Homo sapiens: one gene and its partner. The protein of the gene in region 1 interacts with the protein of each later gene in a biochemical or structural test. Each region holds a gene or a part of one and is shown on either strand. Other genes may lie near its edges.

Evidence for each region. The genes of interacting proteins can lie anywhere in the genome.
Region 2: the proteins of CCDC181 (region 1) and TRPV4 interact in a test that uses a peptide from one of them, tested with the Homo sapiens proteins (one large-scale study listed by BioGRID).

What each region holds. Positions count from the first base shown.
Region 1 is NC_000001.11:169,395,254-169,400,990, forward strand, and holds part of CCDC181 (coiled-coil domain-containing protein 181), read right to left. Parts: intron 2,139-5,737; coding exon 1,984-2,138; intron 1,323-1,983; exon of another isoform or gene 641-1,322; intron 1-640. UniProt on the Homo sapiens protein: Microtubule-binding protein that localizes to the microtubular manchette of elongating spermatids.
Region 2 is NC_000012.12:109,788,399-109,792,139, forward strand, and holds part of TRPV4 (transient receptor potential cation channel subfamily V member 4), read right to left. Parts: intron 345-3,741; coding exon of another isoform or gene 319-344; coding exon 2-318; intron 1-1. UniProt on the Homo sapiens protein: Non-selective calcium permeant cation channel involved in osmotic sensitivity and mechanosensitivity. Activation by exposure to hypotonicity within the physiological range exhibits an outward rectification.

The sequences.
Region 1 (5,737 bases):
ACTCTTCATGCTATAAAGTTACTATTATAGACAAAATAAATGGACATTTCTTTACAATGAAATACTGTCACAGCACAAATTTTTAAGTATTAACTGAAAAATGTAAAGATTACACCCAAGGCTCATACAAGAAAGGACCGTTAGATTTGGGGTCAAATGTTTGAAATTGTCTGTCTTACAATGAAACTGCCAACTTAATTGGTTTTTTAATAATAAACACTATTTTATGTGTGCTGTAGATCCTATTCTTTTTTTAGAAACAGGATTTCTTACTATTTGGTAGATTCCAAATAACTTACTCTTTGTAACTAGCTGTATTCTAAAACATTACTTAGCTAGGTTAAGAATACTATCATGCAGAAATGCTGCCTTACTCTTCTTATAGGTAAATTATAGAGCTTTTAAGTCCACAAAATAGTTCTTAAAATGAAAAGTAAGCCAAACATGAAAACATCAAAAGCAGGAAAGGAAAAGTCCACATTCTAACAAATTCAAGTCTTAAACCTTGTTTAAATAATAGCAAAAATAACTGCATATACATATATACCTGGTATGTAAGTGTGTATGTGGTATGTTTGTGTGTGTGTGTGTGTGTATATGCACATACATACACCTGGTTTTGTTGTTTTTTTTTTTTCAGAATAAACAACTAAATAACTGTATTAGAAAAAAAAGAAACTTACTAAATATCATAATCTGATGATATGTGGTCCTGAATTGGCTACTAGTTTAAGCAAATAAACTGTAAGTCATTTATGGGTTAGTTGGGGAATAAATGGATATGGGCTGGATATTCGGTAATATCATTAATGAAAAGCAGATTGCAGAAATACAGTATGATCTCAGTATTTTGAAATTGTAAATACATGTACAGACAAATACTTAGACAGTATGCATACTGGTGTTAACAGTCACAATTTCTGGGTGATGAAAATGTAACTTGAAACCGCTCCATTTCTACAATGCACATTTACTGTTTCTGTTATAATAAAAGGGTATGTTAGAAAAACAAAAAGGAGGCTGGGCATGGTGGCTCATGCCTCTAATCTCAGCACTTTGGGAGGCCAAGGTGGGCGGATCACTTGAGGTCTGGAGTTTGAGACCAGCCTGAGCAACATGGTGAGACCCCATCTCTACAAAAAAAATATAAAAATTAGCCAGGTGTGGTGGTGCACACCTGTGGTCCCAGCTACTTGGGAGGCTGAGGTGGGAAAATCACTTGAACCTGGGAGGGTGAGGTTGCAGTGAGCTGAGATCATGCCACTGCACTCCAGCCTGGGTGACAGGAAAAGAAAAAGGAAGGAAGAGAAAAAAGAAGGAAAGAGCAAAAGAGACGAAAGAATGAAATGAACTTCAAACAATTGGACTCAATATTCACATTTGGTCCCCCAACTCTCCCCACACTTGCTAGCAAAAATATGAAGCCACATCTGTATTGTCAGAATTAGGCAATGCAGTGTCTTACCCAAATAACTAAAAAATATCAGGTTTGCCTTAAATTACCAAAATATGTACCCAAATCTCCTTTGGTCTATACAGATTTTCCTCCTTAGTCCACCTGCCTTTCTTTTACTGGTAAATGCAACTTTTATTGGTTGCATTTATTTGTAAATTCAGTTTTTCTGAGGGCTATGTAGGAGAAGCTGTAACCAATCTTCAACCCATTTCTCACAGAAATAAGTAAACAATAAATGATAAGGTATCAAAGGCTATCACACTGGTGCCATAAGAAATAATTTAAGTATTGAAAAGTATCTTGAAGAAAAATTGGTATGCATATATATATATAACTCCATATATATAATATATATAATAGAGTTAAAGAATTATACATTTTTAAAAGCATGAATTTAAAATTGAATAGGTACGTGCTGTAAGAGAAAACATTTTGAGGGTTTTTTTTTTCCAATCTTAATTGATGATATAACTTTTAAAATGAACATGAGGAAGGAGGAGGGGGGAAATGCCCTGCCTTTAACTTACTGTTTAAAGGCCCTTTCCCGGCCTTCTGTTCCTTTAAGGAAGAATAAACATTCCTCTTGCTTTCTTAGTTCTTCTGTCTGTCTTTCTTTCATCTGCTCTTCGTGCTTTTTTTTAAGCCATAATCGAAAAGCTTGTTGTGGATCTCTGTTTTCCTGCTGATTAGAAAAACAAGCTTTACTTAGTTTAGATAAACAAGAACTACATTTTGAAGCCCTGCTTATGGGATCCTACAAGAATATATTTCCTACTCTTCAATTTTTCATAATAATGCCAGCCTCATTACCTGCATTCCTAGTATCCAAACCAAATACATCACGCTTAAGTTTTAAGAATATCTTTCAGCAGTTACTTAAAATGGCTAAGCCCATTTTTCAAAACTGTAGTTCCTATTGTAAAGGGTGGCCATAAGGATTTTCAGTCATAAGAATTTTCTTATAAAGATAGCAGCCATGATAATTTTAACATAAGAAAAAGCTAGTAGGAGTGGCTTATTTCGTGGTCCCTCAAAGTTCATGATGGATAGTATCTTCAGGGAATTTTCAAAAGTTCAAAGAGCTCTTATTTGGAGGAATAAAGGAGAGAAAGAAGACAGATTTGGTACTCTTTACCCTTGGGAAAAGTGTCACCTCATGTGGATTCCTGGCTAGAATGCAAAAGGAAAAGATACATTCATTTAATACTTCCCCCAAATATAAGCTTTGTGATTGAGCTTATATCTTGCATTTCCCTCATCTGTTGCCTATATCTTGCATTTTTTCCCTTGTTTGTAACCCACATTGCCAAATATGCTCTAGTCTAATTTAGAAGATTATTCAGGATCTTTGATGCACAACTGAACTTTGTGGAGAAGACCCCTGGATCTAAAGAATCATTGCCAAACACCTGGAAGTCTGGGAATTGCTAGAGATGACATAAAAATGTTCAATCGGGAGTTATAGATCAAAAGAGTCCAGATACAAAGTAATAGATAGGAGGAATAAGTTCTGGTGTTCTATTACACAGTAGAGTGACTACAGTTAACAATACCGTATATTTCAAAATAATGAGGAGAGGATTTTTGAATGTTCTCATCATAAAGAAATGACAAGTGTTTGAGGTAATATGCTAATTACACAATGTGTACATGTATCAAAACATCACACTGTACTCCATAAATATGTGAAATTATGTGTCAATTAAATACAATTTTAAAGTTAAAATATTTTTAAAGATTCAAGGATTCAGGGAGCAACAGGATACATGGGTATCCCCATTCTTTTGTTCTTTCAACAGATATTCATAGTATTTACTACATAGCAGGCACTAAAGTACTGGGTTGCATTAATAAAATTAAGGTTCCCTCTCTCACACATTCTGTACTGTACAATACAGTAACCACAAGTCATAAGTGGCTATTTAAATAAAATTTAAACTTCAGTTTCTCAGTCATACTAGCTACATTTCAAGTGCTTAACAGACACACATGGCTAGCAGCTACTCTAATGGACAGTGCAAATACAGAAAATTTCCATCATCCCAGAAAGTTCTATTGGACAGTGTTCTGCACAGACAGGATAAAAATAAGTGACTGACTGATTGATTGACTGATCTGTCTGATTCAAAAGAAAATATGGGAAGGAGGGTAATAAACACAGCAGTGAGGAGAAAGGATGGTATTTAAATAGAAAGGGAGGAAGTTATGGGATATCTGGAGAAAAACAGTGGTAACAATAAGAGCAAAGGAGCTAAGAAGGGATTGTGTTTGGCATGATCAATAAATAGCAAAGAAGTCAAAGTGAAGCTGTAGCAAAGTAGCTGAAGAGTGGAAGATGAAGTCAGGGAAGTAGTAGGGATCAGGTAATGTATAACCTTGCTGGCCATGGTAGGAACTTTGGATTTCATTTTGAGATGAGAAGCCATTGGGGGTTTCTGAGCATAAGTGACACAGTTTATTCACCATTTTAGAAATATCATTCTGGCTGCTATGTGGAAAACTGAATGAGGGAGAGGCAAGGTAGAAGGGGGCTGGGTTATTAGGCTTTTGTAACAGCCCAGCCAACAGAAGAAAATAGTGGTTTAGATTAGGGTAGTGGGACTCTGTATATGCACTGAAGATAGAACCAACATAATTTGCTCAAAAATTGAATGGATAGTTTTATGTCATGCTTTAAATGATTATTTTTTAAATTATTCCAGGTTTATTAGTATAATAAAAATTCAAGAAAATATATTTTTAAAACAAGGTAAATTACAGCAGAACTATCATCAGAATGATAGACTGCATTGGTATGCAAATATGTCACTGCATAAGATCATAGCAAATAACTCTCAATAGTGGAGGGAACCAAAATAAAAAATTAGAGGAAAATAAAAAATTCTAAAGATAAAATATGAATTATACACATAATTAGTAATGGATTAAATTATCTGATTATAAAAAAGGATAAATGACTGAATTGGAGACTTTTGCATCCATCCATGATATCATAATTGGTATCAGATTTACCCTTCTGCCCTAATTAGCTATAAAGCTAGATAAAATGTATGCAGCAGCTTGATAACTGAGAGTAAGAAAAAACATGATATAACCCCCATATTCACCCTGGCTCTGTACTTGGTGACACTTTCCAGACAACGGTATAGGAAGGAGGAGTCATAGCATCAAGCAGTCACTAGTCTCACTGGGCTCATGAAACAGATAGGAGTCTGGGGCTGCTGAGACAGCTGAATTTCCAGGGCAGGGTACTAGAAATGAAGCAGTCATGTGGAGGGATGCTCCAAGAGTCTGTGTGGGGGTTTCCCTTGGGTCTTGGCAAGGCCTGGGCTGCACATGTGTAGAGTGAGGCTCTGTAAGGTCTAACAGAGAGTAGCTGCTGTTAATGAAGAAGATAATAAAGGTTGCATAGTTTTGGAGACATTGGAGTTCCAATCCAACTATAGTGGGAATACTTCATTGCTTACCTTGGTCAACCACTTACAACCCTAAAAAGGCCATGCTTTGGAAATAAGGGTCATGTCCTAGAGTAAGGACCATGCTCTAGGACTAAGGACAAAAGCAAAATAAACCCATCCTAACAAAGCATAAAACAAAGTCTGACAGGATCAAGAGTATTCCTTACTAATCTAACTGCCTACAAGAAAAAAATTCAATACCCTTTAAAGGAAAACAGTGTATTCTATATTTCCTTACAACTTTTATATTGAAAAGATCCACAGTCTATTAACCAATTTAAAAAAAATCACTGGATATCTAAAGAAACAAGAAAATGTGACCCATAATCCAGAGAAAGAGGCCTTCAACAGATCGATCCTAAGATGACATAGATATTGGCATTTAGATACAAACAGGTCTAATATTTAAGAAATGAAAAGATGAATATAAAAAAGGTCTAATATGTAAGAAATGAACAGGTGAATATAATGAATAAAAAGAGAATCTCAGTAAAGAAATGGAAATTTAAAAAAATAAACTGATAGGAGGATCCAAGATGGCCAAATAGGAACAGCTCCAGTCTATAGCTCCCAGCGTGAGTGATGCAGAAGACGGGTGATTTCTGCATTTCCAACTGAGGTACCGGGTTCATCTCACTGGGGCTTGTCAGACAGTGGGTGCAGCCCACAGAGCACAGTGGGGCATCGCCTCACCCAGGAAGCACAAGGGGTCGGGGAATTCCCTTTCCTAGCCAAGGGAAGCTATGACAGATGGTACCTGGAAAACTGGGACACTCCCACCCCAATACTACACTTTTCCAACGGTCTTAGCAAACGGCACATC
Region 2 (3,741 bases), on another chromosome or scaffold:
CCTGCAGCTTCCAGATGTGCTTGCTCTCCTTGGAGACCTGGCCCACTGTCTCGCCCATGAGGGCAATGAGCATGTTGAGGAGCAGCACAAAGGTGAGGATGATGTAGGTCACCAGCAGGATGATGAAGACCACGGGGTACTTGGTGCTGCTCAGCATCTCCAGGTCGCCCATGCCGATGGTCAGCTTAAACAGGTCCAGGAGGAAGGTGCTGAAGGTCTCGCTGTCACGGCACGAGGGGTAAGTGGGCACTGTGCAGTTGGTCTGGTCCTCATTGCACACCTTCATGTTGGCACACGGGTTCAGGAGGGAGACCAGGGCTGTGGGAGGATAGGGGTGGCACTCACTGAGTGTGAGCACACCCACAGAGAGGTGGAGGGTGTCATTCTCATTTGCTGGAGGAGAAAGCTGAGGCCTAGTGAGCGGAGCACGCTGGCCCACACGCTGACCCATGTCACCCTACACATCAGCCAAGCCACACCAGACCCAGGTCCTCCTGATCCCAAAACCTTTGAAGCCTTTCCATAAACTCTTGCTGATAAGGAAGAGGTTATCTCTCTCTCTCTCTCTTTCTTTCTGAGATGGGGTCTTGCTATGTTGCCCAGGCTGGAGTGCAGTGGCTACTCACAGGCTCAATCCCACTACTGATAAGCGTAGGAGTTTTGACCTGCTCTGTTTCCAACCTGGGACAGTTCACCCCTCCTTACACAACCTGGTGGTTCCCTGCTACCGGGAGGGAAAAGGTTTTCAGGATCTAGTCCAGGGAGGGTCTCAGTTTTTCCCACCAGGGGACATTTGACAATGTCTAGAGACATATTTGGTTGTTACAACTGGGGGTGGGGGTGCTACTGGCATCAGGTGGGTGGAGGCCAGGGGTGCTGCCTGACACCCTACAATGCACAGGATGGTCCCCGCCACGAAGAATGATCTGGTCTCAAATGTCAATAGTGTTGGGAAATCCTAATGCGGCCTACCATTCTTAGAGGTCTTGGGGGCTCTGGAATGCCCCTATTCGCAGGGGTAGACTCTCTCTCTGACAGTTTCCCACTCCACCCCAACCCAGAGAGGAAAAGTGGGGGCTGAAACCAGGCATCAGTCCTGACTGTCCCCAAAGCCGTGTTCTCTAAGGGGCCTCTCCTGCTCTAGACATCTCAAACTCATCATGGTTCTCCTTTCCTACTAAGCCCAGGTGGAGCTTCAGATTCCTTCTCAACACAGTTTGGCAGCAACAACCTGTCCCTAAACCAGCCAGGGAGGGGAGCATGAAGAAGACTCAGTCCCATCAGTCAGTGGGGCACAGAATGTCATACTGCCTGCAACCAGGGATTAGAGTATGCAGATTTCAACTCATATGCTAATGTTCTTCAGTTGTATAGTACCTGGTGAAACACTGTGTTGAGAAGGATTCTGAGACCTTGTCTGGACTCACCGGAAAAACTGTTCTGTGATCCATTAGTGATGTCTGCTATGGACACCAAAGTGTGGGAACAGAAGCATGTGTGTCCTGTTTATGTCATGTCAGCCTCAGAATTGAGATCTAGTGCATCCTATAAGGAGAAGACCTGCAACCAAGCTGACTGCTAAGCTGCTACTCTAACCCTTGTTTCTCCTTAGTTTCAATAACTAGGACTGCAGTAGGGCTAGATCCCTGACCTGAATCCCAAACTGTTGTTGAACCCTTGACACTGTCTAGTTTGTCCAGTGTGATCCCTGGGAAGGGAAAGCTGTACCCTGTCCCTATCTCCCCAGTGAAAACTACAATTCCACTTCCCACCAATAATCTACCTAGAGACTTGGCCACTATCGTGGGTTAAAATATCACCCTTGTCAGATTCCTGTGCCAGGCTCGTCCCCAGATGAACCTGCTCAGATGTGTATGTGTCCAGGTCTAACCTGAGTTGGCCATTCCCCTTTGGATGCTGGGCATTGATGTCAGATTACCCACACCTCGGGGATCAGCCCAAGGACTTGGTCAGTTTCTCCAGCCCTGGTCCCTGGTCCTTCTCCCATGACCCATGCCACTGAGGTCCCAGAATGCTTCTTAGTGGCATCATGACATCACGAAGAAGGTATATCAAGGGAGCTGATGTTGGGCTTTAAGAAAATACCTGGGCTGCTAGTTTAATTATTAAATTTTATCCTTCCATGTATCCATCCTCCTTCAATGTGGCTTTACAGCTTCTCCCACTAAGAAGTGGAGTCTAGGCCAGGTGCAGTGGCTCGCGCCTATAATCCTGCACTTTGGGAGGCTGAGGCAGGAGGACTGCTTGAGCCCAGGAGTTCAAGACCAGCCTGGGCAACATAGCAAGACCCTGCCTCCACCAAAAAAAAAAAATGGAAAAAAAGAAGTGGCGTCTATTTCCCCATCCCTTGAATCGAGGCTGGCCTTGTGACTTGCTTTGGCCAACAGAGTAAGGCAGCAGTGATGCCATGCCAGGAGGTGTCCTTGAACACTTCTGCTCATGTTCTTGGAACCCTAAGGCCACCATGTGGACAAGCCCAAGCTAGCTGTCCAGAAATGAGTGACCATGTGGAAGATAGATAGCAAACCCCCTCTAACCAAGTCCATACTAGCTAGACCAGTCAGCCAGCAGCCAGCCTGCCAGCTGACCACAGGCACAAGAGCCTGTAGGGATCAGCCAAACCTGGCCCAGGGCAGCACAGCCACCCAGCTGACCCATTGACTCATAAGCAATAGTAAGTTGGCCTGGTACAGTGGCTCACGCCTGTAATCCCAGCACTTTGGGAGGCCAAGGTGGGTGGATCACTTGGGGTCAGGAGTTCGAGACCAGCCTGGCCAACATAGTGAAACCCCATCTCTACCAAAAATATAAAACTTAGCCATGCGTGGTGGCACACGCCTGTAATCCCAGCTATTCGAGAGGCTGAGGCAAGAGAATCGCTTGAACCCAGGAGGCAGAGATTGCAGTGAGCCAAGAGCACCACTGCCCTCCAGCCTTGGTGACAGAGTGAGACCTTGCCACAAAAAAAATAATAATAATAAGTGGGTGCTATTTTAAGCCCCACTTTAGGTGGCTTCCTTTGTAGCAATAGCTAATACTCCAGTTTTGCCATTCACCAGCTTTTTTTTTTTTTTTTTTTTTGAGACAGAGTCTCGCTGTGTTGCCCAGGCTGGAGTGCAGTGGTGCCATCTTGGCTTACTGCAACCTCCACCCCCTGGGTTCAAGCGATTCTTGTGCCTCAGCCTCCCGAGTAGCTGGGTCTATAGTTGCGCGCCACCATGCCTGTCTAATTTTTGTATTTTTTGGTAGAGACGGGGTTTTGCCATGTTGGCCAGGCTGGTCTCAAACTCCTGACCTCAAGTGATCTACCCGCCTCAGCCTCCTGAAGTGCTGGGATTACAGATGTGAGCCACTGCGCCCGGCCACCATTCACTGGCTTTTGAACTTGTGCTAGTTATTTAACCCTCCTAAGCCTCAGTTTCCTTTTCTATAATAGGGGATAATAAAGGCACTTAGCTTACAGGCTTGTTGGGAGGCAAGGATGGAAACGTACTTAGTCTGGTGCCTGGCACACAAATAAGAACTCAGTGGCCAGGCGCGTTGGCTCACACCTGTAATCCCACCATTTTGGGAGGCCAAGGAGGGTGGATCACCTGAGGTCAGGAGTTCAAGACCAGCATGGCCAACATGGTGAAACCCCATCTCTACTAAAAATACAAAAAAAAAAAAATTAAAAAATAGTGGGGCGTGGTGGCAGGAGCCCGTAATCCCAACTACGTG